Regions from separate parts of the Homo sapiens genome. Here regions 1, 2, 3, 4 and 5 are each reported to be linked to region 6. Evidence: microRNA targets listed by miRTarBase, many of them from high-throughput screens and not tested one by one. Region 6 holds a microRNA gene; each other region holds the end of a gene's coding sequence.

Region 1 (5,312 bases), not on the chromosome of region 6:
GAAAAGTGTTTTGAATCAGAGCAGATTCTCAATGAACACAGCTGTTTTGCTGCTAGAAGTGGCAAAATTCCAAGCAGGTTCAAAAGAAGCTACAACTATAAAACCATTGTTAAAAAAATCTTGGCCAAGCTTAAGCGTGCTAGGAGTAAAAAATTAGATAACTTTCAATCTGAGAAAAAAGTATTTAAAAAGAGTTTCTTGAGAAATTGTGATCTTATTTCTGGTGAGCAGAGCTCTGAACAAACCCAGAGAACATTTGTGGGTTCTCTTGGCAAACATGGAACATATAAAACAATTGGCAATAGAAAGAAGAAAACATTGACTTTGCCATTTTCTTGGCAAAATATGGGAAAAAATTTGAAAGGCATCCTTACGACAGAAAACATATTAAGCATTGATAATTCAGTGAATAAGAAAGACTTGTCAATCTGTGGTTCATCAGGTGAGGAATTCTTTAATAACTGTGAGGTACTTCAGTGTGGTTTTTCAGTTCCAAGGGAAAACATACGTACTAGACATAAGATATGTCCTTGTGACAAATGTGAGAAGGTATTTCCTTCTATATCCAAACTAAAAAGACACTATTTAATTCATACTGGACAGAGGCCCTTTGGCTGTAATATTTGTGGGAAATCTTTTAGACAGTCAGCTCACTTAAAAAGACATGAACAGACTCATAATGAAAAGAGTCCTTATGCATCTCTTTGCCAAGTAGAATTTGGAAACTTCAACAATCTTTCTAATCATTCAGGTAATAATGTTAACTATAATGCTTCCCAACAATGTCAGGCTCCTGGTGTTCAAAAATACGAGGTCTCAGAGTCAGATCAAATGTCAGGAGTTAAGGCAGAGTCACAGGATTTTATTCCTGGTAGCACCGGGCAACCCTGTCTTCCTAATGTACTTTTGGAATCAGAGCAAAGCAATCCTTTTTGCAGTTATTCAGAGCATCAGGAGAAAAATGATGTCTTCCTGTACCGATGCAGTGTTTGTGCTAAAAGTTTCCGATCTCCATCTAAACTGGAAAGACACTACCTAATTCATGCAGGGCAGAAACCATTTGAATGCTCAGTTTGTGGCAAAACATTCAGACAGGCTCCTCACTGGAAGAGACATCAGCTTACTCACTTTAAAGAACGACCACAAGGGAAAGTGGTTGCCTTAGATTCGGTTATGTAAATTGTCGCAACCACTAACAATTGTGGTCTCTGGTGATCTTATTTTTAAAGCCTGTATTATTTAAAATGCATTTTTATTGAAAGGCCTGCATTAAACTGAATGGTTTCACAGGCATTTGCTTGTCCTGCATAGTAAGGAGGTAGAATACATAGAAAATTAATACAATGTTTTAGAAACAGCCAAGTTAATTTTAGAGGCAAGAACATGATTTGATGCTATAAAGTAGGCATTTTAATATTGTAAACATATACTTTGGCTGTATTGAAAAATATAAATCCATGATGGCTGTACAAATAATTTAGCCTCATTCATTTTTTAAAGGAATTATTCCTTAAGACATGCCATCTCTTTTTAGATATACTCAAAAGACTGAGAGGCAAAACTTGGCTTTTAGCTGCAGCACATAGCCCTGTTATATTTGATTTATTTTACATTTCATATGAAAGCATAATTTTGTCCACATGTGACTCAAATTGCATTGGTAATTTTTTTTTTTTTTTTGTAAGTTAAAAAAACTACAGAGACACTAAAGGTGAAAATGGATGAGACAATTATAGTATTATTTTCATTGGTCTTTTTTTTTGAGATGGAGTCTCACTCTTTCGCCAGGCTAGAGTGCAGTGGCGCCATCTAGGCTCACTGCAACCTCCGCATCCCAGATTCCAGCGATTCTCCTGCCTCAGCCTCCTGAGTAGCTGGGATTACAGGTGCCTGCCATCACGCCTGGCTAATTTTTGTATTTTTAGTAGAGACGGGGGTTCACCAAGTTGGCCAGGATGGTCTCGATCTCTTGACCTTGTGACTCACCCGCATCGGCCTCCCAAAGTGCTGGGATTACAGGCATGAGCCACCGCACCCGACGGTCTTTTCAAAGCTATTTATTTTTAGGACTATGTGGTAATTTCACCTTCAGGTGATAAGGATTTTTTTTTTCTCCCAGCTAGTGCTATCTTTCTCAAAATAATTTAAAAGTAGGCGAGAGGCTAGGATGTACCTATATTTACCATGTTTACTTACCAGGAATATTTTCTAAGTGCCATAGTCTTTTTCATAATACGTATGAGTTTTACCTTTTCAGAGGAATAATTTCAAGTCATTTATTTGCTCATTAATGATAGCAGTAGTCATAGACTTAAGACTATTCTAGAGATCTTCATCTCCATAAGACTTTTACATTTATTTTAGTAAACTTTTCTTTCTATGCCTCTTTAATGGAGTGGTTCTGTTATTTAAGCCTGTTCTAAGTTTGATCAAATGGCAATGACTAGGTCTAGTTTTAGTTTTTATTTTTGCAGGAGTCTATTGCTAAAGAATTTTATTTTGATGCTTGTTAAATTTTTATTTTAATTAATAAGGTAGTCATTCCTGTAGAGGGATAAGATGCTTGTAGAGTTGTGGGTATCATTCCAAATAGAACTGTTATGATTTGGGAAATATTCTTTACTACAAAGGACTTATTTCATAATTACAAATTTTCCTTCATATTTGCCTTTGTTTATAAAATCTTCAGGAATGACATTCTCTAGCAATAAAAGGAATGAACCGTTATGTTTCTAAGCTGAAAAGAGGAACAGGTGGGTAATTATCCTGCCATACTTAAATATAGTGGAAAATCCTCTATTGAGAATGTGGATAAATGAACAATTGTAAGTTTTGCATCATAAACTGAGAACTTTCTTTTGACAGGGGGGAGGCGGGAGGGATAGTAGGTGGGGGTGATCTGCTTGCTTCTTTTACCACAGGTGATTTTTAAGTAACTTGGGTTTAATTTACAGAGATGAAACATGACAGTCTGAGTAAAATACCCAGTGATGTAGAAGTGTGCCTGTTTATTATGTAGATACAGACATCCAGCAAAAACAGGAGAATCACATGCTTTAAAGAACACTTTCTCTTAGGTTTCCTTGAGATATGTTCCTCCAGTGCAAGCAAGATAATGGTTTACAGAATTTGCTTTACACAAAACTTGTCAAGAACTCATCTGTTAAAAGCAAGGAATAACTAGTTTATATTTTCCAATAATGTTCAAGGTTTTCTCCTTAATATGTTTGAAATTATTGATTTTGGCATTTTTCTAAGCAATTTATGTAATTTTATTTGAAGAAAATGTTTTGTATAATGTTTTTCCCAGCCTAAACAGGGAGAGTCCTAACAGTGTTGTGCTTGTATGATTCTGAGACTTTATTTGCGTAAGTGATACTACTATACTTTATTTTTGACCCATGCCTTTTTAAGCTGTTTCATATTGAAAGGTGGAATATTGTAAAAATTTTGTCAAAGATGTACTGTAGTGCTATTTGAAGTACCTGTAACAAAACAGTTGGCCCTCTGTATCCATGTACTCTGCATCTGTGGATTAAACCAATTGCAGATCAAAAATATTAGAAAAAATAAAAATAATACAAATAAAAATACAGTATAACAGTTATTTAAATAGCATTTACATTGCATTAGGTATTAGTCTAGGGATAAAGTATACAGGCGGATGTGCGTTGGTTATATACAAATATGTCATTTTATGTAAGGGACTTGAGTATACTTGGATTTTTGGTATCTGTGGGTTGGGGGGACGGTCCAGGAACCAATACCCCATGGATACCAAGGGACAACTGTACTTATTTACCTTTATTGTCATTGCAAGCTTCTTATGGAAACTTTATAGGAATGAAAATATACATGTTAAGAAGATTAAACATTAGATAGTAGATGGTTTGTTGCATGCTAGAACTGTTAGTATTGTTGAATCAATTACTTTGGTTTCATGAAAAAATAAACGATAAATATCTTTAAAGAGAACTAGAAGAATTTTTTGTTTGAGTGATTCCAGGCTGTAGTATGATCATTTACTGAAGTAGTTTGATTGGCTGGCTAACTTAGAATTATTGTTTCTTGTTTTGTACTGCAATAGGGGTTATAATTGTAAGATAAAAATGTGTGTGTGTTTAAGGGAAGTAGGTGGTGGTTAAAATTCTTGGAAAATTTTCAGAATACTTTAAAAATAAAGTTCCAAGTTACACAGTTTGGCCTTTTTTTTGGGGGGCGGGGCGGGAATTACAAAATATTGGAGCCAAGGTACTGATTGTCGGATACTTTTATAGGTCCACTCCAATCTACCTTCTACACCAAATTTACATGGATATTTGATCATTTACGCTCTTGTTCATGTTACATTTCCATGCTGTTCCCTTCTGTGGGAAAAAAAAATCCTTTGACATCTTCCTATCACCTACAAAAGAATATGTTAACTCCATTGTATGTTGTATGGTCTATGTATTTATCTGTTTATCCTCCTTTTTGGCCTTTCTCTTCAGATTTGTACTAAAGAAATACAGAATTAGGGGCCGGGCACAGTGGCTCAAGCCTGTAATCACAGCACTTTGGAAGGCCGAGGTAGGAGGATTGCTTGAAGCCAGGAGTTTGAGATAGTCAACAAAGCAAGACCACCGTCATTTAAAAAAAAATTTTTTTTTAAGCCACGTGAGGTGGTGACACACACCTGTGGTCTCAGCTGCTCTCAGAACACAGAGGCGGGAGGATCGCTTGAGCCCAAGAATTGGAAGTTGAAGTGAGCTATGATCATGTCCCTGCACTCCAGCCTTCCATGCCTGGGTGACAGAGCAAGATCATCTCTTTAAAAAACAGTATATAGAATTGGTTTCTCCAATACATACTAGTATTGTTATTCTTTTTGCTTTCCATCGTGTCTATCTTGTGTCAAATTAGAAACAGACAATCTGTTCAAAGTTTAGCTGAGTCAAGTTTCTTTTTTTTCATGATTATGGGGGAAAACAAAAGTGCTTAAAACTGACTTGCACAGAACACGGATTTCAATGTACATGTTATATAACACAACCAATTAGAATTATATTTTTAGGATGCAGCAACAGTCTTTGAAATCTTTTACAAGAATCTTTGTTAGAAATAACATTTGCCAAGTACTGTTTTATGATGCAGAATGGTGTCTGCTTTTTTGAAGCTACAGGGAAGGAACATTTAATCCCTAGCTTGTTGAGATTTCTCCTTATTGCCAGTTAGAAGGGCTTAGAATTTAAGGGCTAATTCTATTAAGGGAATTCTATTAGCAGTAAGAGAAAAAAAAGGAAAGGTAACTGAAAAGTAATATAATGGTATTA
Region 2 (5,312 bases), not on the chromosome of region 6:
TAGCCTGGTGTGGTGGCAGGTGCCTGTAATCCCAGCTACTTGGGAGGCTGAGGCAGGAGAATTACTTGAACCCAAGAGGCAGAGGTTGCAGTGAGCTGGAACTGCACCATTGCACTCTAGCCTGGGCAATAAGAGCAAAACTCGGTCTCAAAAAATAAAAATAAAAAATAAAATTTTTAACAACCAATTATTTTATCTTAGGATAAAAATTTACCATATAATTTTTAATACATCAATTGTATTTTCCTAAATTTATATTTTGATTAATAGACCGAAATACTTTTAGTCCTTTTATAAAACCTAAGAAGCCAAGAACAAATGTCTATGTATTTAGCAATTTTTTTTTAATTTGGATATGATCCAGACATTTAATGAGTATCATTTAACATAATTTTAAGATTTTAAAATTACATGAAAAGCTCATTTATAAATGTTTATTTCATTTATAAGATTTATTTCTCAATTATTCCTAGATTTATGAAAATTGAGATAGAACTAGTCATTGTTTTTATTAATCAGTTTTATAGACTGTTACCATGAAGTATTTATCTTGATATTAAGGTTTAAGTAAGAACCTTAAAGTTAAAAACAGCCACCCTGTTGCTAACTCAGAAAAGTTACAGCTATTTTTATTAAAACAACAATATAATCATATTTATTTAAAAACTATATAAACAAAGATCATTTTGTTTTAGGCTTTATGACTTTAAAACATCTAGCAGAGGCAAATATAAAACTGTCTGACCAGTAAACCCAGACAAAAATGTCTGCTGACAATTTTGAAGACATTTCTAATTTTATTTTATCCACAATTTTAAAACCAATTAATTTATCAAAGATTTACTTAAGTCACATCAACTAAAAAAAACTGGGGGTTAATTACTATACATTTTATATGAGTGCTCATTTATTTAAACCAATCAGAATAAAATTTGTTAAGGGATTTCTGGCTGACTACACCAGCTTTTATGTAGATACAACATTCAACATAATATATGTACATACACATAAACACATTTAAACACATATACATAAAGATATTAAAACTTTTATTTTAGAATTTTAGTCATGATATAGTAAAACACGTAAATTCACCAGTTTATAAAAATGATTAGATGCAAATTATTTTTCTGACAAAATGGGCTAAGGATAAGCTTTAAGCTTTTTTAATAGGCAATCTTATAAAGGCTGTAAATCAAATTTGGGATAAAGCAGTTTGAGTCACTCACCAGTGCACTAAATTGAACAAAAAATAGTTAACTGTGAAAGTGTGCTGAATTATGTGAGTAGGACCAAAAGACAAGAGTGATTTTTAACAAGGTTTATACAGTATTTTCTTGGACTCAATTCTTTGTCATTGAAGATAAAAATGCTGCTATTCTTTTTTGTATAGGGAGGAAGGTTTTACATGGGAATTTAATCTTTGCTTTAAAAAAAAAACAGTAGGAAGGTCAAAATGACTTTGTTTTATATCTGCTGGTTTTCAAGTGTTTTTATTTAAGTAGTATGTTAGAATAGCTGTTTAGAGAAGGATAAAGAGGGGATACTGTAAGAAGGGGAGGGGAAAGGTCTAGAAAAGAAAGTTTCAGCCACCTTTGAGACAGTATTTTTTAACAAGGCAATATTTGTATCCTGAATGTGTTTTGTTTTTGTTTTTATTTTTTTTTAGCCTCAAGATATCAATGAAATATGCATATCTTATTTGGAGTGTATGATTTTATAGCCTCCATCTTTTAGTTCAGTTTTAAGAAAAACAGACTAAATGATCCCTGTAATGTTTGAATATGTTACTAGCTGGAGTTCCAGAAAATATTCTGGCATGCCTTTGAACTTTGAGAGCTCATTTCGTGGGTGCTCTGATTTAATGTCAACTATGCAAAAGCCAAGTAAATGCAAGCACTGAATACACAAAGGCCAAATAAATACAAGACAGGACAGAAAATAAAATACATGCTTACCAGTAAGAATGATAAGCCTTCTCCAAAGAAAGGGAAAAATTCCCTCATCCAAGCCTCAAGGTCCAAACCTCGCAGCTGAGGTCAACAGGGGGAAAATAATTCTACCCAACAGATCTACCAAACAAGAGGGGGAAAGACCTCTCCCTAATCATATCCCAAATAAAACAGAACTCGAACCATATCTGAGAGTTCTGTCCAAGAGATACTTACTGGAGGGAGAAAGGATTACCTGTGAAAGTGGTGGGGGTGTAGGGGGTTCAAAGGGCCCCAACATGGGTACCTCATGCCATAACTCCAAAGGCCAATGATTCTCCATGAGGTGAGTCAGCTTTGTATCCCACTTCTGACACCATGCATGTCAAAGTCAAAATGAAAATGTAGACACAAAACTAAATTTAATGTTTTGAGAAGAAAGAATTTCAATTCTAGGTGATCTTTAGTATGTCCAACAAACAAAGAGAAGGTTGAGGGTTTTATTTAAAACTAAGAATGTTACTTGTGGTCTTTCTTTTTTTTTTTTTTTTTTTTTTGAGACGGAGTCTCGCTCTGTCACCCAGGCTGGAGTGCAGTAGTGCAGTCTTGGCTCACTGCAAGCTCCACCTCCCGGGTTCACGCCATTCTCCTGCCTCAGCCTCTAGCCTCCCGAGTAGGTGGGACTACAGGCGCCCACCACCATGCCCGGCTAATTTTTGTATTTTTAGTAGAGATGGGGTTTTACCATGTTAGCCAGGATGGTCTCAATCTCCTGACCTTGTGATCCACCCGCCTCGGCCTCCCAAAGTGCTGGGATTACAGGTATGAGTCACCACGCCCGGCCAACTTGTGATCTTAAGAGAAAGTTCATTGGTATTAGTAAAGCCCTGGGGAGCTGGCAAGCTCCAACTGGTGGGCAATGGCCATAGGTAAAATTAGTCCTAGAGTTACAGCAAGTTATCTCAGCAGCTATAGACAAAACTGGTCTCAGGTTACAGCAAGCAGTTTCAGTAGCCAGGCTCACAGAGAATTACATTCTTGGAGCAATATTATGTGTCCCAAGTACTTTTTCCCCCTAGCTTCTTGAGTCTGTTTTAGTTGGATGTGACAAGAATGACTCAATTAATATTATCAACTTGCACAATTATAAAAGAATCACCATTTTATGTAAGCACTTAGGCTAAAAAAATAGTAAAAACATCCTATGTGGCCAGCAGCCTTGAAACAATAGAATTTAGTCAAATAATGATTACCTGCATAAGATATGCTTTCCATCTAAGTAGTTTCCCCAGTGATTTTTGCCAGTATTCTAATTCTACACGGAGTAAACACAAACTGTAAATGTTAAGAAATTGCCCATGGCATAATAATCACCTTTCAAATTTCTCATATGTTAAGGCTACTTCTTAATAATTATTATTCTCTAATAATTTGGAGTTACAGAGAAAGTAAGATTCCTTCAAAGTTTGGTGAGTTTGCTGGGCGCAGTGGCTCACGCCTGTAATCCCAGCACTTTGGGAGGCCGAGGCGGGTGGATCACAAGGTCAGGAGATGGAGACCATCCTGACTAACACGGTGAAACCCCATCTCTACTAAAAAAATACAAAAAGATTAGCCGGGCGTGGTGGTGGGCACCTGTAGTCCCAGCTACTCCAGAGGTTGAGGCAGGAGAATGGTGTGAACCCAGGAGGTGGACGTTGCAGTGAGCCGAGATCACGCCACTGCACTCCAGCCTGGACAACAGAGCGAGACTCCATCTCAAAAAAAAAAAAAAAAAAGTTTGGTGAGTTTTTTTCAAAGTTTTATTCCTTAGATATTATCTGTGTAATCAGATAGACTGGGCTAAGCCACAGCCTCATTCTTTGTCAACTGGATAACTTCAGAAAAGTGTTTTAACTTCTCCAAATCCTAGTTTCTTCCGCTGTAACATGAGGATAGTCAACACTGACAAAGAAGGATGACTATAAGGATTCATGAGATACGGTGTGTAAAGCTAGCCTCATTCATGGCAATGGTCACTGCTCAGCAAGAGAAAGCAGCCCTTATGACTATATTGCTGAGATTTTATTAACTAACCTTTTGCCCTATTAATTTCATGACCCCTTTTTTAAACAGGTAAGTGTCAGAAGAAGATCCTATAATGTCAATGTGTGTCCTATAAAGGTTAATCAGGACTTCAAGGTATCTCGAACTTAATTGTTCACATGCCCTTTTGATCATTCTTTTCTCTCTATTTTCCTTTCCTTCCAAAATAAATGTCTCTTTTCTAAGCTTTAAGTAAAGAGCATGTGACCATTCCTCAATGAGCTCTTTTACATGTTTTGCATTGTTTGGCTGAGAACCAACTTGAATGCTTTTTAGACAAATTGTGGTGATTTCACCATCCACTTTCTCCTGACTCAGAATGTGGAATTTTTTCAGTGTGCTTTCATAAGATCCACACTTGTGTTTCAGGTAAAGAAAAACATCTGTGTCAAGCACAAGCATTTCTCCACTTCTAGCAGTCTCAGGTACTAAGGTCCTGACTGATGCCAAAGAGTTATTACTTCTCTGTAGATTCCTCTGGGGATTTTGTCTATTCCACTTTCTCTCCTCACTGGTAAAATTTCTGTCTTTTTCTAAGAGAGAACATGCTCTTGCTAGCAAAGATTCTCTGAGCCTCTTGACAGCCAGAAATGATCCTTCCACGGAGATTCTTCCATTGGGTTTCAAAGGACTGAAGCTTAAACTCGGGATTTTTTTTTTCAGGTCTTTTACCAGAGTTTCTAGAGTAACTTCTTTTCCAAAAACAGAAAGATCAAGGATGGCATTTACAGAGCTGAAGATCTGAAATTAAAAAGAGAGAAATGAAAACAGTACTGCCTAGTGGGAAAGACTACATAAACATGTTCTTTTCTGCCACTTTCTTTTCTCTGCAGAAATTGCAATAAACCAGGCCCCAGTTGCCTGCCCCAGACTTCCTGACTTCTTGCACCAGGGCAGCCCATCAAAGTTATCCCATTTTGTTCAATTTGGGATTCACACTCCCTCACCACATACCCCAAAACAGACAGGCTCAAATAATTTTTAGAGGCAGAATTCTTTTTTGAAACAGTTTTATGCAGAACCAATACATACAAACTGTTCTGGTTCTGCTTGGATAGGGTTCCCCCAGGAGTCATTCCTGCCCCCAGTCAAGTTCATCAGATGGCTGCATACAACTCTGAGTGTCTTACAGAATCAAGTTGGTAAACCATTGCTTTGGATTTTAACTTTTTCCTCTTTTTCTTACTTTCTGTCTCTTCAAAGCTTCTTTTTAATGTTCATTCTAATTGTTTTTTCCCAAAATAAGCCTTTAGGTTGGTACCTGGCATCATCCATGACAGTATAAGCGTTTACCAT
Region 3 (5,159 bases), not on the chromosome of region 6:
CTCTGCAGTCAGCCCATTGTCTCTCAAGCTTGAGGCAGAAGGAGCTGACCTCACACTGGGGATTCTTGGGAAGAGTCCTCAAGCCTAGCGCCTTTTCAAATATTCTCCTTTCGCCTATATGTAAGTATGTGTTCTGCAGGCTGATATCATAGGCCAGGTTACCATAGGCCAAGTTACCAGGATTAATTACAGGTCAGATCACAATGTAATAAGCACTAGGAAAGCAAATTTTTGGCCTACTCAGTTCAAGAAGTGTTCACTGTCAGAATTTAAAATAAGTAAATGACCTCAGAGACAATCCAGTCCAAGTCCCTTATTTTATACTTGAGGGGACTGAGGCCTGAAGAGATTGACTTGTCTAAGCTCCTAGCAGTTAGAAGAACCAGAAATAGATTGCAGATTGCCAGATATCCAAAGAATCTGGTATCTTTTCTTCTACTATAATGGACTAGATGTAGTTTTTAAATGAATCAGCAACTGGCCCTATACCTGGCAACAAAGTGAGCACTCAAATTGTCAAAGGCACAAAAAGGCCAGATGTAACATGGCGCCCACCTCTTCCAAGGTCAGTGGGGGGGTTTTCAGTTGCCACTTGAGGGGAACAGGTGTAGAAGAGTAATGAGCAACTTACAGCTCTCCAACCACGCTGTTGCAGGAAGCTCCGAGATGAAACTACCTTCTCCTTCTGTCTGGAGAGTGACTGGGCTGGAGGGGTGAAGGTGGACCTTGCTGGCAGGGGACTCGCACTAGTCTGGAGGAGACAGATTCAGCAGCTGAACCGAGTCAGCCTGGAAATGGCCAGTGCAGTTGTGAATGCCTATCCCTCCCCACAGCTCCTGGTACAGGTATGCTGCTCCAGGGCTCAGGGGTCACTGCCCATTGCCTGCGGGCTCAGTGGGCCCCCAGATTTCCATGGACAACTGTTGAGGGCCCACAAAGGCCTCACAGGTCAGCAGTGCAGGTCTACTAAGATCAGTGTTGCTAATGCTGACCCAGGGAGGGAGGACAGGTTCTCATGCCCCAAGCCAAGCGTAGCACCCTCCATGCTCATGGAGAAGGGATCACCATGGATGGTACCATATTAAGAGGTCATCTACCACTTCCAGGCTTATCAGCAGTGTTTTTCGGATAAAGAACGCCAGAATTTGCTCGCAGACATACAGGTGCGCCGTGGGGAAGGTGTGACATCCACTTCTCGCCGCATTGGACCAGAACTATCCAGGCGTATCTACCTTCAGATGACCACTTTACAGCCACATCTCTCTTTAGATAGTGCTGACTGATTCTAGCCCTCAGGGATGAGGATGAAAAGCTGGAAACTTCCACTTCCCCAACCTCAGAGCCTGACTGTAATGAAGAGACTGGCAGCACCTCCTGGAACACAAGCCTAGGTGAGGCCCAGTCTTTCTTGGGTCTTATTATTTGTGAAGGTCTCTCTGCCTGTCGGCTGGGGCAGAGACTGAAATACTGCCACCTACCTTTGGCATTTAATGTTCCTCTCCTGGCAAAAATTCACTGCCACAGACAAACCACCCCCACTCCTACCCAGCCAGCCCTCAAAACACAAAGGAACAAAGACAGTCCACTCAGACACTTATTTAATAACTGTAGAAATCCAAAAGAATTAGCATCAAATCTTGAAGTCGTGAGTGAAGCTGCGGGTTGGCTTGACTGGGCTCAGCCACTGAGCTGCCTCAACCGGCCAAGGAACGGGATTATGATGACTATGCGGACTTCTATATTGTCTTCATCTCATTGTGTGTATTATGTATTTAGTTTCAATAAAGCATTTGTACCAATGGCTCTGGAGCTTGGAGGAAGACTAAAGGAATGTGTAGTGATTCTGAGTAAGATGTAGACCTACGCAGCAGAGCTATGGGGGAGAAGATTAACAAAGTCCTTTCTTCCAATATCAGGATAGTCATGAGTTGCAGTCCCATCCAAAAGGTCATTAGGGCTAAAAGGCCCTCTGTGTCTCTGAACTATGAGATTCTTGCTCCCTCCGGGGGAGCCAAGGAGCTTGCAACTGGGAGTTTGCAGTGAATGAGCACCATGACACAGTCATTTCTGATCCCTCTATCCAGCTGTTGTGAAAAGATGAAGCAAAGGAGGCAAGAAAATGCTTAATTTAGCAGACAAGAGAATGGACAGTGTGATCCTTGTTTGTGCTAGCCATTGGGTGATGCACCACTTTTCAGCTCCATGATGCTACTTGTTTCCCTTCATATCCTGTTTCCATTTATGCCCTTCAGTTATGGTCTAGAATCAAACAATTCTAAACCTCAGTGTCTTATGAAGCTGACACTTCAAAACCTGCAGAAGCAGGTTGCCTTTGAGGTATTTAGTCACACCAAGTACAACTAGAGCTGTCATAGACAGTGTAGGTTTGCAGAGATCCACCTCCTTGCTTACTGGCAATTAGGGAGTTAATGCTCTAAAATTAGGCAAGGAGCCTGGACTGTTGCCATTTTATGGAAGCCACATAAGTTGGGCAGGACTCCACAGGAGCTGCCCGTGACCTGATGATAGCAAGAGATTTCTATCTCTGAGTCGTGAAATCTGTCTACCATGAAAGAGTCTATGCTTCACCTGAGGAATAATCGATTCTGGTGTGAGTTCTGGTCTCTCAGGACATTATAAAGGAGGGAAAATGATGTAAAGGGAAGAAAGAATACCAGAGTGGGAATCCAGTTTTGCCTCAAACTAGCTGGGAGACTAGGCAAGTCATGGAAGACCTCAGTTTCTCTGTCTGCAAGTGTTATATTGGACTGGATGGTCATGAAGTCCCTTTCATAGCCAGAGATTTTGTGTGGCTGCTAAAATGCTTACATCTCTGAGGTCCTAAAGAAAACAGGAATACCCCTACCTCCCAGTTTAGACTGGATTTACTGAGCGTGGTGTTCTAGTCCCCCCCAGTTCCTCCTGATCTACCCTGATTCCCAGGGAGGAATGAAAGGGTTTGTGGCATACAAAAGTATAAATGTAGTGACAGCTGACCATTTAGTAGAAACGAGCCTTGCCTTTACACAGCTTTATATAACAACTAGAAAAGGCTATGTTTTCTCTCTCCCCACCCCCAAGCCTACTCCTTTAGGCATGCAGGTAACTGCCCCCCACGCCCCCCCGCCACCTCCCATTTCTCCTCATTCCTTCAGGGAACCCTGACTAAGGAATGAAGAAGTCCTACAAAGAGGAGGTCTCATGTACCAATCTGCAGCCATTTGATGATGGCAGGTAGGTCTGATGCTAAAAAGAGGTTGTGTCCAGCAGAACCCAATTCCATAGGAATCCAAACTCCAAGGCTGGGAGGCAGCAGGTGCTGGGGACAAGCTCACTGCTGAGAGTCGGTCTGGAGGACCCACTGGAGGATCTCATGGCGGCGTAGACCCTGGACCGCATTGTCATAGATGGTGTTCACGCTGGTGCAGAGGGGCTGCTGCTGCAGCTCTGTCACCCGACAAGCAACCAGCCCTCCCGCCACACCAAATAGCAGCAGCAGCAGCAGCAGCTTCAGCACAGCCCAGGAACGAGTGTGCTTCCGGGGTGGTGGCTTGCGGGGACGGGAGCCAGACTTAGATTCTGGAGGAAAAGTAACAGTAGACAAAGCAAGTTCAGTCAGAGGAGACCTGCTCTATACTAATCTCTGCTAGTCTCCTCCGTGCAGATCTACCTACATTCCTTCCTCAAGCAAAAACTCCCCAGGCCCTGAAGAGAAAAAATGTCTCCACAGACCGAAACAGAAACAACTTTTCCCTTGGATCTGAAGGGGGTAGATTTGCAACTGGCACTCATTCTGCGTGTCTCATGTAGCTCACAGCCCTCAGGGTCCTAAGTTCTCCTTGGTAACATGGTGATCCACGCCTCTTGGGATCGCAGAGGGAGAGGCTTATCAGGAAGCATCCAGCGCTGACAGAGTACTGTCCACTTGGGGAAACACGGTCAGGATTTATCATTATTGTCATTATTATGATATAATGTGTATATAAAAAGAAAGCCCAAAAGGTAATACACCATATTGTAAGCAGTGATGATTGCTAGGAATGGGGGAGTACAGGTGGTTGCCATTTTCTGATATATGTATCTAGATAGATAGGTATCTTTTCTCAATTCTTTGCAATGAACATATGTTACATTTTTAATTAGAAAAAAATTGGTTTTGAGATTTTTAGACAAAATTTTTAAAAACTTGACTGATCATCCACAATGCCAGGAACTGCATGATCCTGCTTCCTCATTTAATCCTTATCACTACCCTGTATGATCTTCATTTTCAACAAGGAAATTAAAAACCAGTGAGATCAGGAAGGTGGAGGCCTGTGGCCCTGTCCTGGTCAAGACAAGGGTGAGTAGGGGCAGGGCCACAGGCCTCCACTCTCTGTACAGAGCTCCTTCCCTCACCTGCCTCTCCCTCAGGAGTCCCTTTTCACCCAGAGGGTATCTGATCCTCTGCAGCATGTGGAGCCACGTCACTAACGAAATTCAACCATAGTCAGGTAAAACACAAAAATGTGTTTTCTATACAATGTGGCTCCCTGAATGCAGGCCAAATGACTCCTCTAGTGTTCAAGCAGTGAGGGGTCTCACTGTTGCCCAGGCTGGTCGTAAATGATCCTCCTGCTTCAGCCTCCCAAGTAGCTGGGACCACAGGTGTGTGCCACTACACTTGGCTAATTTTTTAATTTATGTAGAGACAGAGTCTCTATGTTGCTCAGGCTGGTCTCAAACTCCTGGGCTCAAGTGATCTCTTCTCACCTTAGCCTCCCAAAGCACTGGGATTAAAGGCCTGAGCCACAGAACTTTACTGTAAGGCACTTTTAAGAGTAAACTTGCCGGGCACAGTGGCTCACACCTGTAATCCCAGCACTTGGGGAGGCCGAGGCAGGCGGATTACCTGAGGTCGGGAGTTTGAGACCAGCCCGACCAACATGCAGAAACCACATCACTACTAAAAATACAAAATTAGCTGGGCGTGGTGGCACATGCCTGTAATCCCAGCTACTTTGGAGGTTGAGGCAAGAGAATCTCTTGAACCCAGGAGACGGAGGTTGCAGTGAGCCGAGATCACGCCATTGCACTCCAGCCTGGGCAACAAGAGTGAAACTCTGTCTCAAAAAAAAAAAAAAAGGAAACTTGACCATGTGTGTGATTTTTGCATATCT
Region 4 (4,000 bases), not on the chromosome of region 6:
CACCTGGCCTCGGCTGCTGGCCTCTGGGTATTCTCACCTGGAAGCAAGAACAATCCGCAAAAAGTTGCCGCGATGCCTAGGACCCACATTCTCCCGGAGTCCCGGGGCCGGGAGAGGGCAAGCGCATCAGAGGAGGCGACAGCAGCGGAGGCTGCCCCGGCTGCAGCGGCTGTGGCTGCCGAGGCTGCTGGGGCCCGCGCTGCTGCCGCGGAGACGACGGTCGTAGCTTAGAGGAGCCGCAGGTGCCGCTCGCGGAGCCTGCATCGCCCGCGCTCGGGCTCCCGGCTGCGGGTCTCTGCTCCTCCCGCTCGCGCTCCCGGGCCGAGCACCGCGCCTCCGGAGTTGGCGGCTGAGACTGAAGGAACTACTGGCGATCGGGAGCACCCACAAAAGTCTCGCCTTTTCTCCCCACCTCCCACTCCAGGCATCACGTGACGGCTGCCGAGTTGGGGTGGGGGTGGCGGGCGGGGAAGGCTGGGACGGTCGCTTCACATCCCCACCCCCTTCCTGTCTTCCTCTTCTCCCGCCTCCGCACGTTCCTGGGAAAGGGGCGCCGGGGGGCGGGAGAGAACTGGTAGTTTTCTGAGATGGGGAGGTTGGGGGAGCGGCGAGGAGGGCGCAGCAGGTGCCGTGGGGACCTGCCGGGTGCGGACTAGGGTCTGAGGACTGCGTGCCCGGCTGGCCCTTCGCACATAGGAAGGCAGCCTCCCCACTCCACGTCCTCTGCGCCTTCCAGGACTGGTCGGTACCCCAGCGACTGGGTCCAGCCCACACAACTGAGGCTGTCCCGCTGCGGGCCGCGGGAGCCTGGCGCCCCGGGAGGCTGACAGGAAGGGCGCGCGTTCCCGTGCGCCTGGCAAAGTTCCACGCCCGCAGGCTCCGTAGGGTGTCCTGTGCAGCTGTGCCCCCTCTTCCTCCGCGAAGGCCTTCTGTCAAGAACCAGCTCGGCGTGGCCAATCTGGGTGGGGGTGTGGTGGGGACACTGCCTTAACTGTCTCACTTGCCCGGGCCGCCCTCCCTTCTCCCGCCTGCGCGCACCGCTGGAGGGTGCATTGACACCGCCCTGGTCGCCTAGCCTAGGAGAACGCCGTCCCGGGGACACCTGCCGTGAGGTCCTACCAGAAAGCAAATCAGGGTGAGGAAGAGGGTTGTTCTCCTCCATTCCTTGTCTCCCAAACGCCAGCCGGCTCCATTCTGCTTTCCCCAAAGCCACCGATTATTAGCACATACTCCCACGTCCTCTCCTGAAAGGCCATCCCAGCCTCGGACTCGGCCTCTGGCTGCTCCCCACACCCCTCAAATTCGTCTTCTTTCCGCAAAGTCCAAGTGACCCACCTTGCGGACTCCCGGGGATGCCCCGGTGCTATCTTCGCCTTCCTTCCCGAGCCTTGCAGCAGGTGGTGCGGGAGACCGCTTGCCCGCCGGAGTGCGTTGGTGCCCCCGCCCCCAATCCGCACATTCCCATCCCCTTTCCGCACATCCTTAGGGAGCATCCATTTCCGTGGAAATCGCCTCCTAAGCTTTAGCTCCTCTTCACCCTTTTCTCCCCCGGCCACTTCTGGGGGCAGCTCTCTCACGCCGGGACGCTGATCATTTATTTCTGCATCCTCCCAGCAGAGCTGGTCTGTAAAGGGGCTTAAATGACTTTCTTTGTAATTCCTCTGCAGAGATCGTTCCATATCTGCCTCAGGCTCCTTCTCTCCCTCCCTCCCTCCCTCTCCCCCTTCTTTCATTTCTATTTGGTTAACCCCTCGGGGAGACTGAAATGCTTTGACCATTACTCACCTGTCTGCAGACTCTGATCTTACAATTGGCTAAATTACTATCTCTGGAGCAAAAGGGCCAATTTATTTATTCCTTCTGGGAACCCATTGTAAGAGCACGTGTGAGTCATGATTCAAGTAACTGACTGGGCCAAAAGGTCCTTGAGCAAGTTATTTTCTGTTTTCAGAGGGTGCAAATGTGATATAACTTTTATTCAGAAAGGAAACAAAAAGATTTTTTAAAGTCTGAAAGACAAGGACATTTTACATAATTTTCATTTAAGATAAAATAAAACAAATTGCACAAATTAACCAAATAACACTGATCATACAATACTCTTTAAAGAAACAATTATGTGCTAAAGTAGCCATATAGATCCTAAAAATATTTCTATTGGGCCTAGTTTACAAGCTCCTGTACATAAGTAATTATAAATAGTTCACATCTAGAAAAAATACACATAACCTTTAAAATAGAATTTATCCTTACATATAAACAGTCTTTGTAGAAAAAAAAGGATATTAAAAAGAATTCTTCGTAGCACCATTAATTTTATTTTTAAAAGTGAACATTGCAAATAGAAATTTGTTTTCATTTTTAGAGTGCCCAGATTTTAATAAAAAGAGCAAGAAGATAAAAATCAAATAATATTCAGGATCATAGAGAAGCACTAAGTAAAAGACAATCTAAAGAAATGTCTGGAAGGAAAAACTGGTATTGGGAATAGAATTCGGTCATTTCTGATACAATGTCACACTCCCAATCAGTGTCCACACTTCAGGACCCTTTTCATTTTTCAGCAGAAGCAGAATGACACTTATTACTATCACCTGAATCTCTGGCAACGAATCTGAAATTACACTAAAATGAACATTTCCATCAAATTGAGATTTGTGAGATGGAGATGAGGAGGAACCCTCCGATTTTTTGGCAGGCCCTGTTGTAGGTTTACAGAGTGTACCCACAAACAATTTGAGGACCAGGACAACGAACTTCACAAAAACTTCAGTTGGGATTTTAAAAAATATATATTATCATCAACTTCTAAGACTTAGTACATTATTTCAAGAGCATGGCACTGATTCCATTTATTGCTGTCTTTTTTTGCTACAAATATAATTTCTCTTCCAAAAAATTTACAACTTCTGTACAAATATTCAAAAAAAGTGCAAAATTAAGGATTCTGTATCATAGATGTGTTTACGCTTAATCCTCTTGAAACACAATAAATGGAGTCTATCTTTATTGCCCTGTCAGAGAAATAAGCTCTGGTGGGTTGCCTGCTGTGAATTTGACAAGGAAGGCTCTGGTACTGCAATAGTTTATTGTTATCTCTATCAAGCGGTGCACCCCCCACCCCCCACCCATCATTTCTTAAGCGCTCCAGTCCCAGCTCACTAAGGGAAGAGATGTCCTTTATACATCATTTGAACCTTGACTGGCACAGGAAGAGAAGCTATCATATAAAGAATCACTCAAAGATTCCAAGTTGTCTACCCCAGGCCTATCTGAACTACTCAAAGATGTCTCTTCATTTTTTTCTTTTTCTTCCTTCTGTCCTTCAACCTTGTTCAGAGAGTTCTTCTCTTTTTCTAATAAAATCACAGTATTGCTGTTAAATTTATTGAATGACTCTAGGGAAATTTTCGATAATCTATTCTCGGGATCGTCTTTTGTTTCTTCAAGTTGTCTCAATTTCTGCAATAAAAAGAAGAAAATATTAGAAACATATTTCTTTGGAAAATCAAGTTATCCTATCTAATATTCAATTATTGTCTGTATAAAGTACAGTTTAAAGGGACAGAGAAAACCTACAAGTCTTTAATAATCTTCTAGTATAATTAGATGTAATAATAAAGCCAATTTTAGGGATAAATCAGGACTTTAATCATTTTACTGAGATAAATAGGTCCCAATTTGCAAATTAAGTGCCACTTAATTTCATTTTAAATGGATCCATTTGAAATTTGTTCAGGTAAAGTGCCTTATTTTTCTTCATCAAAGTTTCAAACTCCTCTCTTTCCTTGCTAAGTATTAGCTGTACTTTTTCTAAATATGAGTAGGTATTGAATTTCAGCCAGAAGTTATGGTAATATGTTTTTTTCTAATAAAAAAAAGACATAAAAATCCCCTAACTTGCCATTTTTGAATACATGTTAAGCTTGTTAGAAGCATTGCCATTTTAGTATTTTGTCCCTTTATAGGACTTAAGATATTTGAAAGAGATCTCCAGGTT
Region 5 (5,312 bases), not on the chromosome of region 6:
CCTTGGTTTATACCTTTGGTCTCATTTTCTAAAAAAATTGGAACACGTACATGAAAATGTTTGCCTGTAATCTCAGGTAGTTTAGGGATTCCATTGTTTTCTCTTAAGAGACTTTTTTGGAAGTCCACAGCCTCTGGTTTAAGCATGGTTTCTTTAAAGGAAAGAGGTTGTAACAACATTGTCCCTCAGCCCGGTTTTATTCTGGAATGGCCATTAGTTTTAAGACTTTTGTGGTAAGTTGTTGGAAGTAGCTCATTTCCCAGGTCTCATAAATTAGTTTGTTACTAGATTGTCAGCTCCTTGTGGTAATGGACCACGATTTTTAATTTTGGTATCCCAAGTTTACCACATACCTGGCATGTTGAATAAAGCCATCAATAACCATTTGTTGAAGAGTACAGCTGTAAAACTCTGATTTAGTATACTGCAAGCTTATCTTGCAAATTAGCTAGAATCCAGGGTAATCTTTCTGACACATGGAGTTAATTTATTTTTAGCATCTCTTTCAAAGTATATGCTGATCGTCTTGTTTGTTTAAATAGCCAATTGCCTCATCCCACTTAACTCAGAGATGAGTTCCCATGGGCAGGGGCTGGGCTGTTTTGTTTACTGCTGTAGGACTGTGTGTAGCACACAGGTGTGTCATAAACGCTTGGACTTGTTCAGAGACTTGGAAATCATCTGTCATATGGGGCTTAAGGAAACTCAGCTTTTATGAATATACTTTCAAGGGGAAATTTAACTCAGCATTTTCATTTTTGCTTTGGAGATAATGATTAGCAGGAGGGTAAGATGGTGGTTCTGCAGGGTGCTGTTTTCTTAATGACCAATTACATCAGCCTGAGTCAGTTCGTTGTTTCTGACCTTTTAAAAGTGGTATTTTCAATAAGGTGGAATTATTTTGAGTTCTTCCTGTGTGGCAGTTTAGTTGGATTTGAAAGATGGATGAATCTTGGGTAGAAGTGTGCAGAGGGAAGCAGTGTGAGCAGAGTGGGAAAGTGTGAGGAGAGCCGTGAGGAGTGTGGTGTTGGTGGAGAGGGGAGGAAGACATCTTGTGGGGAAGGTCGGGCGGGTTAGAGCATAGACTTCCTCCAGAGGCCAGGAGACCATCGGAGGCCAGGAGATCATCGGCGAGTGTGGCAGGGAAAGGGCCTGTTGAACTGACTTTCCCACTTGCCTTTTCGTTGAGAAGGAGAGTAAAGGCCACGCCTGTCCCATGGCTGTTTTTAAGTCTCGAGTGTGGAGATTGTTGGTCGTGGAGGGAGGGGTGTTGCCTCTGCCTGAATCCCTGGGGTCTCACTGTATTCACTTTTTTCTCTCCTTTCAGAATATTCCCCAAAGCACTGAGATACTAAAGAAATTGATGACAACAAATGAGATTCAGAGTAACATTTATACATGATCTTAAACATTGTTTTGTAGTGTATATTACTTGTCCATTCCTTTAAGGGGAGCAGCCTGCACTCTTTTGTAGATTACTTTTGGGGGATATATTTTGAGAATGATGAAACGGAATAAAATTGTAAAAAATTAATTGTAGTTTTAATTCCTTATTTATGGTGGTATTATTCACAACCAAAATAAGCCAAGCATTTTCCTTTTATCCACTAGGTGGGAGTATTGTTGTATTTGAATATTTTAAGGTACTATAGTTAAATTTTTATCTTATTTATTTATTTATTTATTTTTTGAGGCTGGGTCTTGCTCTGTTGCCCAGGCTGAAGTGCAGTGTGCTATCATGGTTCACTGCATCCTCGACCTCCTGGGCTCAAGCATTTCCCCCGCCTCGGCCTCCCAAAATGCTGGGATTACAGGTGTGAGCCACTGTGCCCAACTTTAGTTAAATTTTTCAAAGCTACAGATATCAGCAGATGGTATTCATGTGGCAAAGTGTAGTTAATTAGGTGTAACTATTCATTGACCTGTTGGTGATTCTTAATATGTGGAAAGTTTCTGGATATTTTAGGAGTCCTGCAGTTTTTTTTATCTTGTGGGTAAAAATTGATGACAAAGTAACAAAATTATATATTTACTAAAAATGAAACAGAAATGTGTATGTCCTCACTTTTTAGTAATATCTGACAGATAGCCTCTTCACCCAGACTTTCCCAGGGCTCTCTTTCAAGGCTGGCTCTGCGCGTGTCAGCAGTTCTCTTACAGTCATGTGTTATCATTAGGAGTGTGAATGGAATCATGAACCCGGAGTAGCCACACAACTTCACAGGACCACAAACTGAACTGCATTCATGAAAATAAATTTTAAAATGGTGGAGTTAAATGCTTCTTATCTCTTCTGCTTTCTTTTTCACCTTTTTAGTTATTGAATCATTTACATACTATAGATTTAGAGTACTTACCCATTTATATTTTCTAGTTCCAGTTCATTTACTGTTTTTGGTAATGATTAGAAGTATGGTAAGGAGATACTGTGTTCTAACTCCTTCTTGAGTAAACTTGGTTTCCTTTACATAATCAAGAATTGGAAGTCTTGTGCATAGTATGCTTATGAATATATCCCGAAGGCAGAAATCTAAGCATTTCCCTTGTTGCAAAAAAAGTTTTCATTCATTCAGAAATGTGCCTGCAGAGCCCTGAGGTAACATCATATGACCTGGAATCTGGTCCTAGCTGGAGCTAATCCTCTTCTTGTGCTGAGGGTCAGTGTGGTAAGTAAGGAAGAGTGATCTTGGAAAAGCAGACTATGTTCAATCCCAGGCCAGCCCTTACAGGCCAGGTGACTTTGGGCAGATGCCTTGAAGCTTCCTGAGCAACAGTTTTCTCAGCTGTAAACTACAGATAATACTGGTGACAGTACTCCCTGGGTGGTTATCTACTTCCCTTGGGGTCCAGGTTTTCATCTGCTTAATGAAGGAAATTCTCTGCTTGCTTTGCTGAATTGTGAGAATAATGATATAAGAATGCTTTTGAAGAACTGTAAGGTGGTATTTCCATGTTGACACACCTTTGTGTGCCCCACCTCAAAGATGCTGACGGTGATGTGGTAAGAAAGGAGTGGGGAGCTGCTCTGGGGGCAGCTGGAGCTGTCAGTCTTCATTCCTTCTTGTACTTCCTCTTGCTAACTTGAGAACCACAGAGCTTGGCAGTGTCAAATGGCTAAGAGTGGAAGTAGTTGGGGGACAAGTTTTGCATCGGCAGTAATCCTGGGAGAACCCTAGAAGCAGATAACTCTGGGCATTGTAGTTTTTAATAATTTTGGTAAGGAAAGAATCATAATTGCTTCAGACTGTCCAGGAGTAAACCTCTTCTTGTGATAAGAAGCAGGCAGCAGGTGCAGGAGGTTGGCTGTCAGTGCAGCAGAGCCACGTTAGGGCCAGATACCAAGCCAGGCACAGCGGTGCTTATCCGTAGTCCCAGCTACCTGGGATGCTGGGGCAGGAGGATCGCTTGAGCCCAGGAGTTCGAGTCTAGCCGGAGCAGACATCAGGCCTGGGTAGGTTTCCCATTCAAAGGAGAGTAGCTGAAGAAAACAAGCAATACGAAGGATAGAAACAGCATTAAAAATGCAGAAGAAGAGCATTCTGTTGAAAAACATGACTGTAGGAAACAGCTATTTTTTAAAAGTCAGGAACCCCTGCTTTTTCCAAAAGCAAATAATGAGATGTATGAGAAGCAGCAGCTAGCTGAAAGGAAATTTAAAAAATTTCATGGAAAAGATTTTAACAGAAGCAAAACTTCAACTTTAAAATCTGTATTATATAAAATAACAACAAATAGTATGTGATCTAAGTTGTATATATATTACATATATATAAAATAGGGTATAATACAAAGCCATTATGTGGAGGACTAACTTGAGTTGGTGTCCTAAGATGCAGGACAGAAATAGAGAAGTAACAGATGACACAGACAAGACAGTATATGCCCAGTATATTAGAGCAGTCCAGAGAGAACCAGTAGGATGTGTATAGTCATGCACCACATAAGGACATACCACTGGCGGACCGCATGTAGACAGGGGTCCATAAGATCGTATGGAACTGAAAAATTCCTATCGCCTAGGCTGTGGTAGCCATCCTAAGGTCAGACCTCATGTGTTACTTGTGTTTGTGGTGTTGCTGGTGAAAACACGCCTACTGTGCTGCCAGTTTAAAGGTCCAGCACATACAACTATGAACAGTACATAATACTTACAATAAATGACTATGCTACTGGTTTATGTACATCCTATTTTTTGCTATTTTAGAGTGTATTCCTTCTACTCGTAACAAAAAAGCGAACTGTAAAACAGTCTCAGGCAGGCCCTTCCAGAGGTATCCAGAAGCAGACATTGTCATCACAGGAGATGACAGTTCCATGTGTGTTACTGTCCCTGAAGACCTTCTAGCGGGACAAGATATGGAGGCGGAAGACAGTGAGATATTGATGATTCTGACCCTGTGTAGGCCTAGGCTAATGTGTGTGCTGTGTCTCAGTTTTTAACAAAAAGCAAAAAACAAAACTTTTGAATGGAAAAAAGCTTATGGAATAAGGATATAAAGAAAAAATATTTCTGTACAGCTGTACAGTGTATTTGTGTTTTAAGCTAAGTTATTAGAAAAGAGTCAAAAAGTTAAAAAAATAAAAGTTTAGAAAGCAGAAAAGTTACAGGAAGCTGAGATTGACACCAGCAGAGGCAGCAGCCTGAGCAGCTACAGGCTGTGCTCTCTCCCACCTGCCCTGAGGTCTCTCCCTTCTTTCTCTTCCTCCACCACCTTTTCTCCTCCTTCTCGTTGCCTTTCTGCCCACCCCTGTTGTTCCACCCCTGCCCCACCCTGCCTGCTCTCCTTTTTCCCTGAGTTGCCTCCTGCCTGGAGTTCTTGGTTTTCATCCCCACTGGCCAAAGACTTGACCACTCCAAGTCCAGCTCCCCATAGCCCTGCTTGATATGGACACTGGTATGATTGAAATTGGATTAAATGTCATTCTCACCACCTGGCTACTTATGCATGGAAAGGAAGTTGGCAGTATCATCAGAAAGAGGAGAATCAGTTAAGATGCATGAGGAGAGTGGTGCATGTATCAGCATCTCAGAAGGGAGTTGTTCTGAGAGAATTATCATCTTGGCTGGACCCACTAGCGCCATCTTCAAAGCAAGATTGGAAGAGGATATCAGTAGCTCTGTGACCACTAGCACAGCTGCCAGTGGACCCCCTGGTCACCCTGATGCTGGTGGTCCCTGCTAGTCACTGTGGCTCATTGGAAAAGGTGGTTGCAAGATCAAGGCAATACGAGAGAGTACAGGGCTCAGGTCCAGGTGGCAGGGGATATGCTCCCCAACGCTGCTGACTGAGCCATCACTATCGCTGGGATTC
Region 6 (5,312 bases):
GCTTTCTTTTCCATTTATCTGCTGAGTTATTGAGGTTCCAATCAGGGTTGTCTACTTGAACTGCTTCTCTTCCTAGTGGGAATGGAGTTTCCATTACTTCTTCACCTTCCCTATCTCCTTTTTTTCTCTTTGGTCTGCCATAGGAGATGTTGTTCATCTTCATATTTTTCTGCTGCCTGCAGAACTGCTTGCTTTTCAGCTTCAGTGAGGCCTGACTTAGGAGCAACATAACATCCCTCCATGTGAGGTCAAACACCTGAGTTAAATTTTGGAAAATTTCTATATATTTATTGGGGTCATCAGAAAATCTGCTTAAGTCTCCCTTTAATTGCTTAAGGTCCTGTAATGAGAAGGGAACGTGAACCCTCATGGCACGATTTTCATCAGGCACTTCCTGCAGAGATAAGAATGAAGTGGGGAAAGTGGGTAATACTGGAGATGGTGGACCTGGAGGACCTGATGGTATGATTGGAGGGGCTTCTGGATGAGGGGAACTGAGTTGAGACATTCAATAGCTGTCTCAGATTGCTCCTCTGGAATCTGCTTTAGCTCTGGGGGACTATTCCTTGTGGGCTTGCCTGTCATGCTGCTAAAAGAACTGGGTCAATTGTACAAAGCTTGTAAAGGTCTGGGTCGTCTCGCAGGGCAAAGAAAGCCTGTACATTGGGTATCTCAGACCATTTGTCCTTCCATCTGCAGAAAATATCTAATTGTTGGACAGTATTAAAATGAAGGCTCCCCCCAGCAGGCCAGGTTTGTCTGTCTTAAAGATGGTAAGAAGGCCATGCCCTTATGCCATAGAATATGAGGTGCTCTTTCTACAAAGTCTCAGGGTTGAAGCAGTCCCAGTGCTTTAGAATATACTCCAGGGGAGTACATGCTGAACATGATCTGTTACCCATCTAGAAAGAGAAGTGAGAAAAAGGTGTCTCTTTTGTCTCCTTCCTCTCTCTGTATAACCCAGAGTGGAGAAGAAGACAGTGGGAGCGTCCCCCCAACTGTTTTCCTTCCTTGGTTCCTGGGTCCCAGCACCCTGTTAAATGTGCTGCCCATGGTTGTATGTGTGACCCTCCAAGCCATGGCACCAAAGAAACCAAGCAACTGGGGCTAGTCATGCTCATTCAAGTAGCTCTAGTCCTCTGCCTGTGATTTCCCTTTGACTTCCTAGACTTGTGTGACCTGTGTGCCTCCCTTAAAAAAAATTGACCTTGGGAAAGATTATATAAAAGGCAAGTGTCCTTTAATGGAGGGAATGTGCTAGATTGCCTGCTACTATGGCCCGTGTTAAAGCCTTAACCCTTAGAAAAATGGTTCTGGTTAACTTTCAGACTTAAAATCCCCTTACTAATTAAGGACTGTCTTATTGGAGACAGAATAGTTTCCTTAAAGGGATGTGGGGGCCTAATCGTGACTTTCCTGTTGATGGGACAGGATCAGGACTCAAATTTGGCTGCAGAGGACAATTTACTCCTAATTGTTGAAGGCAGAATTTTCCTGTTCACAGAAGCAGCATAAAGCCTGGTTTCCAGTAGGAAGGGGCAAAAAGGAAAAATTAGGAAGCTGCGGTGGACTGTAGCGGACAAGCAATGCGTCTTATGAAGAGGGTGTCTATTTCCACTAGGTGGCGCTGTTGGCTTAGGAATACTATGTGCCACCAGCAGCATAGTAGGGACTCATCTCACAACCGGGGTTTCAGAGACCTCTGTTCCTAGAAGATTGCAACAGCATTTTCCTGAGCTATAGCCCCGGTTATTACAGCATTTCCTGATCTTGCCTAACAGGATTACTTCCCTAGGCTGTAAAAATTCCCACACATTCGACACACAAAGAGAATAAGAGGCATAGCGACCGTGGATAGAAACAGAAAAAAAGTTTTGCGACAGGATAACTGGGGATCTTTTACCAACACCTGGGCAGGCTGCTGGAGGCTGAGTCCGGTCCAGAAGCTTTTGAATAACACTAGGAAATGCCCTGGCCAGAAATTCTCAGTTGCTTCAGAACTTTTCCCCGCCTTATGCAATGGCTAATTTTCCCCATGAACAGAAAAGCTGGTTTGAAGCACGGCCAACATTCCCAATGACCCAGGGTATTGGAGGGAGGGGGGTCTTCATGTTCTCCCCAGCAAGGCTGACATGCGAGTCTTTAAGAATGGCAGCCACACTAAGCATATCTAGATGGTTGACAGATGCTGTTATTGATTTGATTTGATTTTAAAATGGAAGCCAAGAGCCTCGGAATGAAAGGACAGGTTTTGAGTTTGCTCTTCTGCTCACCAACCCCAATGGATATTGTACCTTGGTTTCCCAGCCAACGCACCAAAAATGATATGGGTCTGTTGTCTGGAGAAACACCCAAGGTCCTTGTTCTCGCACGGAGAAAATTAGCGACACGGATACACGTGGAGTGGTTTAAGGAGTGGAATGTTTAATAGGCAAGAAAGAAGAAAACAGCTCCCTCATACAGAGGGAGGAGGGCTCCAAATGGAAAACCCCACATGTAGCAGAAAGCAGTCGGTTATATTGGGAGGCTGGACGACGTGGTGTTTGGTTTGCATAGGAGCCAGGGGATTGGTTTGACCAGGTGTGTCATTCACATAGCCTGCAAAAAAGCCAGCTCTCCCACCCTAGCCTTTAAATATGCACATATGGCTACCTGGCTGGTCACCATGATGTTCTGCATACGTGGCAACAAAGAAAAAGTCACGGGAACCACCATATTGGTTGGACCTGGCTTCTAGCCACCAGCATTTGCATATCAATGCTTGCAGGTCTGGTTTTTCAGGCCACTTTCTGTTAGAAAAGAAATGTTTTGGGGCTTGCTTTTTTATTAAAAGAAAAAGCCTTACCAAGGACTCTTTTCCCCTCTCTTGCTGCCTAAAATAATTTCTTAATAACTCCTGTAATACTAGTGATTCTTCGATCAGGAATACAACTTTTCTATAATTTGTGATTTCAAACGTGTCAAGATGGCAGTGACATCATTTTTTCCCATGTGCTTTCTGCTTCTTCGCTTAGAAAATCAGTGGCAGATTTCTCCCAGTAAAGAAGACATATTATTTTAATGTTGCCAAATATTTTATAAATTATTCCCTGACTTATGCTCAAACAGTGACTATAGTTGAAACATCATCCTGCAATGAAGCTCAAAGTATACCAGTCTTACCTATGCGTTCAGAGCTTCAAACAGTTTTTAAAATCTCCGTCTTTAAACGTGAGAAGATAAGCAAGAATTAACAGTTGAAGAAGGCTTCTTTTGTGAAAGAAAAGTACTGGGAAAACAAAACAAAACAAAACAAAAACTGGAGGAGAGAGATAATATAAAAAAGAAAATGTTTAAAGCTTATCGTTGTCTTAAAAGAAGTTTCGTTAATTAAACAAAAAGAGCTTTCTGATTTTAAAATTACTGTAGGCCAGGCATAGCAGTTCGCACCTGTAATCCCAGCAATTTGGGAGGCCTAGGCAGGTGAATTACTTAAGCTCAGGAGTTCAAGACCAACCTGGGCAATATGGCAAAACCCCATCTCTACAAAAAATACAAAAATTAGCCAAGTATGGTGGCACATGTCTGTGGTCTCAGCCACTCAGGAGGCTGAGGTGGGAGGATGGCTTGAGCCTGGCAGACAGAGGTTGCAGTGAGCCTAGATCACATCACTGCACTCCAGCCCAGGGACAGAGCGAAACCCTGTCTCAATAAATAAATAAACAAACAAACAAATAAAATTACTATGGAGCTATAGAAATCAAAATAGTGTGGTACTGACATAAAGATAGGCCTATAAATAAGGTAATGGAACTGAGAGTCCAGAAGTAAAGCCTTCTAATTGTGTCAACTTTTTCTTCAAAAAATTTGCCAGGCCAATTCAATGAGAAAGGACAGTCTTTTCCACAACTAATTTTAGGACTATTGAATATCCAACATGCAGAAAGGATAAATTTAGGCCTTTATCTCAAACTATGCACACAAATTGACTCAATATGGATCAAAGATCTAAATGTAAGAGCTAAAACTGTAAAACTTTTAGAAGAAAATGCAGGAGAAAATCTTTTTGACCTTGGCTAGTCAATAATTTCTTAAATATAACATTGAGACCACAATCCATTAAAATAAATAAACTATAGTCAAATTGGTCATCAAAATTAGAATCTTGGGTACTTCTAAAGAAATAGCTGACAGAATGAAAAGATAATCCACAGACTGGAAGAAAATATTTGCAATATGTTTCTGATAAGGCATTTACATCCAGAATATGTAAAGAACCAAATAGATGACAACAAGCTCAATAAAAACTTAAACAAAAAAATTAAATAGACAATTTACAAAAAAGAATAAAAAGACTCATCAGCACATGTAAAGACATTCAACATCATTAATTATTAGGTAAGTACCCTTTAAAACTATAGTAAGATACCAGTTCATTCGCATTTGAATAACTATAAACATAAAAGACAGACAAAAATAACAAAAGTTGGTAGGGAAATGGAGAAACTTCATATATTGCTGATGGAAATGTAAAATGATACAGGCAGTCAGAAAATAGTTTGGCAGCTTCTTAAAAACTTAAACATGAACTTACTATGTGACCTAATAGTTTCTCTCCTAAATACCTACCCAAGAGAAGTGAAAGTTATTTCCACAGAAAGACTTACATCTCAAAGTTCATAGAAGCATTCACAGGAGCCTAAATATAGAAACCATTCAAATGTTCATTAACTTATAAATGAATAAACAAAAATTGGTATATCCATTGAGTGAAATATTAGTCAACAATAAAAAAATGAACATATGTCATAATATGGATAAAATTATAAAAGCATTATACTGAGCAAAAGAAGCCAGATCAAATGATCACATATTATTAGATCCCACTTATATGAAATTTTCAGAAAAGAAAAATCTGTAGAGACAGAAAATAGGTTTGTGATTAACTAGCTCTTGGGGTGGGAATGGAGAATCATCAAAAGTAGTTGCTTCTGTGATGAGAATGATAGAGCTTAACCACTGAATGTTTTCTAAAGCTTTGAAATTCTATTTCTTTCAAATTGATATGCATGTATTATTTTGACAAAAAGTATGTAAACATAGATATCCGTTTTAAAAAGTAGAGTATGGAAATTGAAGGAATAACTTCACAGTGGAGAATTGTGGCAAACACAAACTTGGTTTGATGGTGAAGGTTAACATCATCAATGGTCAGTCATGTTGATAGCTTGCACCTGGATCTACTGTGTTGACAACACTTTGCTCATGTATTCTTCCTCTGCAAAACCCATTACCCTAGTCTACCCTTGAGGAAAAGATCAGCCAATCCCAAT

Evidence for each region. Region 6 holds the annotated microRNA hsa-miR-7977 (UUCCCAGCCAACGCACCA, at 2,301-2,318, shown strand). A microRNA usually pairs through its seed, bases 2 to 8, with sites in the 3' UTR of a target mRNA and lowers its output. Matches are read on the target gene's strand: a 7mer-m8 pairs with bases 2 to 8, a 7mer-A1 pairs with bases 2 to 7 and ends in A, and an 8mer does both.
Region 1: miRTarBase lists ZNF770 as a target of hsa-miR-7977. Seed matches in the 3' UTR shown: 7mer-m8 at 1,874-1,880 and 7mer-m8 at 2,007-2,013.
Region 2: the mRNA of RBM43 is a reported target of hsa-miR-7977. Seed matches in the 3' UTR shown: 7mer-m8 at 3,573-3,579 and 7mer-m8 at 3,436-3,442.
Region 3: the mRNA of LRRC59 is a reported target of hsa-miR-7977. Seed matches in the 3' UTR shown: 7mer-A1 at 2,937-2,943.
Region 4: the mRNA of NCKAP5 is a reported target of hsa-miR-7977. Seed matches in the 3' UTR shown: 7mer-m8 at 3,152-3,158.
Region 5: the mRNA of PSMG1 is a reported target of hsa-miR-7977. Seed matches in the 3' UTR shown: 7mer-m8 at 1,802-1,808.

Annotation. Positions count from the first base shown.
Region 1 is chr15:34,977,226-34,982,537 of GRCh38, reverse strand. ZNF770 (zinc finger protein 770) reads left to right here. Exons shown (of 3, transcript NM_014106.4): 3 at 1-4,197. The coding sequence ends at 1,179. Among named protein-coding and RNA genes, the nearest start is that of ZNF770, 8.4 kb to the left of the region's middle.
Region 2 is chr2:151,246,908-151,252,219 of GRCh38, forward strand. RBM43 (RNA binding motif protein 43) reads right to left here. Exons shown (of 4, transcript NM_198557.3): 4 at 1,033-4,757. The coding sequence ends at 3,999. Among named protein-coding and RNA genes, the nearest start is that of RBM43, 12 kb to the right of the region's middle.
Region 3 is chr17:50,379,657-50,384,815 of GRCh38, forward strand. It overlaps LRRC59 (leucine rich repeat containing 59), which reads right to left. Exons shown (of 7, transcript NM_018509.4): 7 at 1,582-3,579. The coding sequence ends at 3,332. EME1 (essential meiotic structure-specific endonuclease 1) reads left to right here. Exons shown (of 9, transcript NM_152463.4): 8 at 656-845; 9 at 1,107-1,827. The coding sequence ends at 1,283. Among named protein-coding and RNA genes, the nearest start is that of EME1, 9.0 kb to the left of the region's middle.
Region 4 is chr2:132,669,844-132,673,843 of GRCh38, forward strand. NCKAP5 (NCK associated protein 5) reads right to left here. Exons shown (of 20, transcript NM_207363.3): 20 at 1,945-3,462. The coding sequence ends at 3,446. It overlaps LYPD1 (LY6/PLAUR domain containing 1), which reads right to left and starts at 362. Exons shown (of 3, transcript NM_144586.7): 1 at 38-362. The coding sequence starts at 89. RefSeq lists an enhancer at 1-188.
Region 5 is chr21:39,171,680-39,176,991 of GRCh38, reverse strand. PSMG1 (proteasome assembly chaperone 1) reads left to right here. Exons shown (of 7, transcript NM_003720.4): 7 at 1,328-2,223. The coding sequence ends at 1,402. It also overlaps the pseudogene PCBP2P1. Among named protein-coding and RNA genes, the nearest start is that of PSMG1, 9.1 kb to the left of the region's middle.
Region 6 is chr3:176,512,803-176,518,114 of GRCh38, forward strand. It overlaps MIR7977 (microRNA 7977), which reads left to right and starts at 2,301; the gene lies at 2,301-2,349.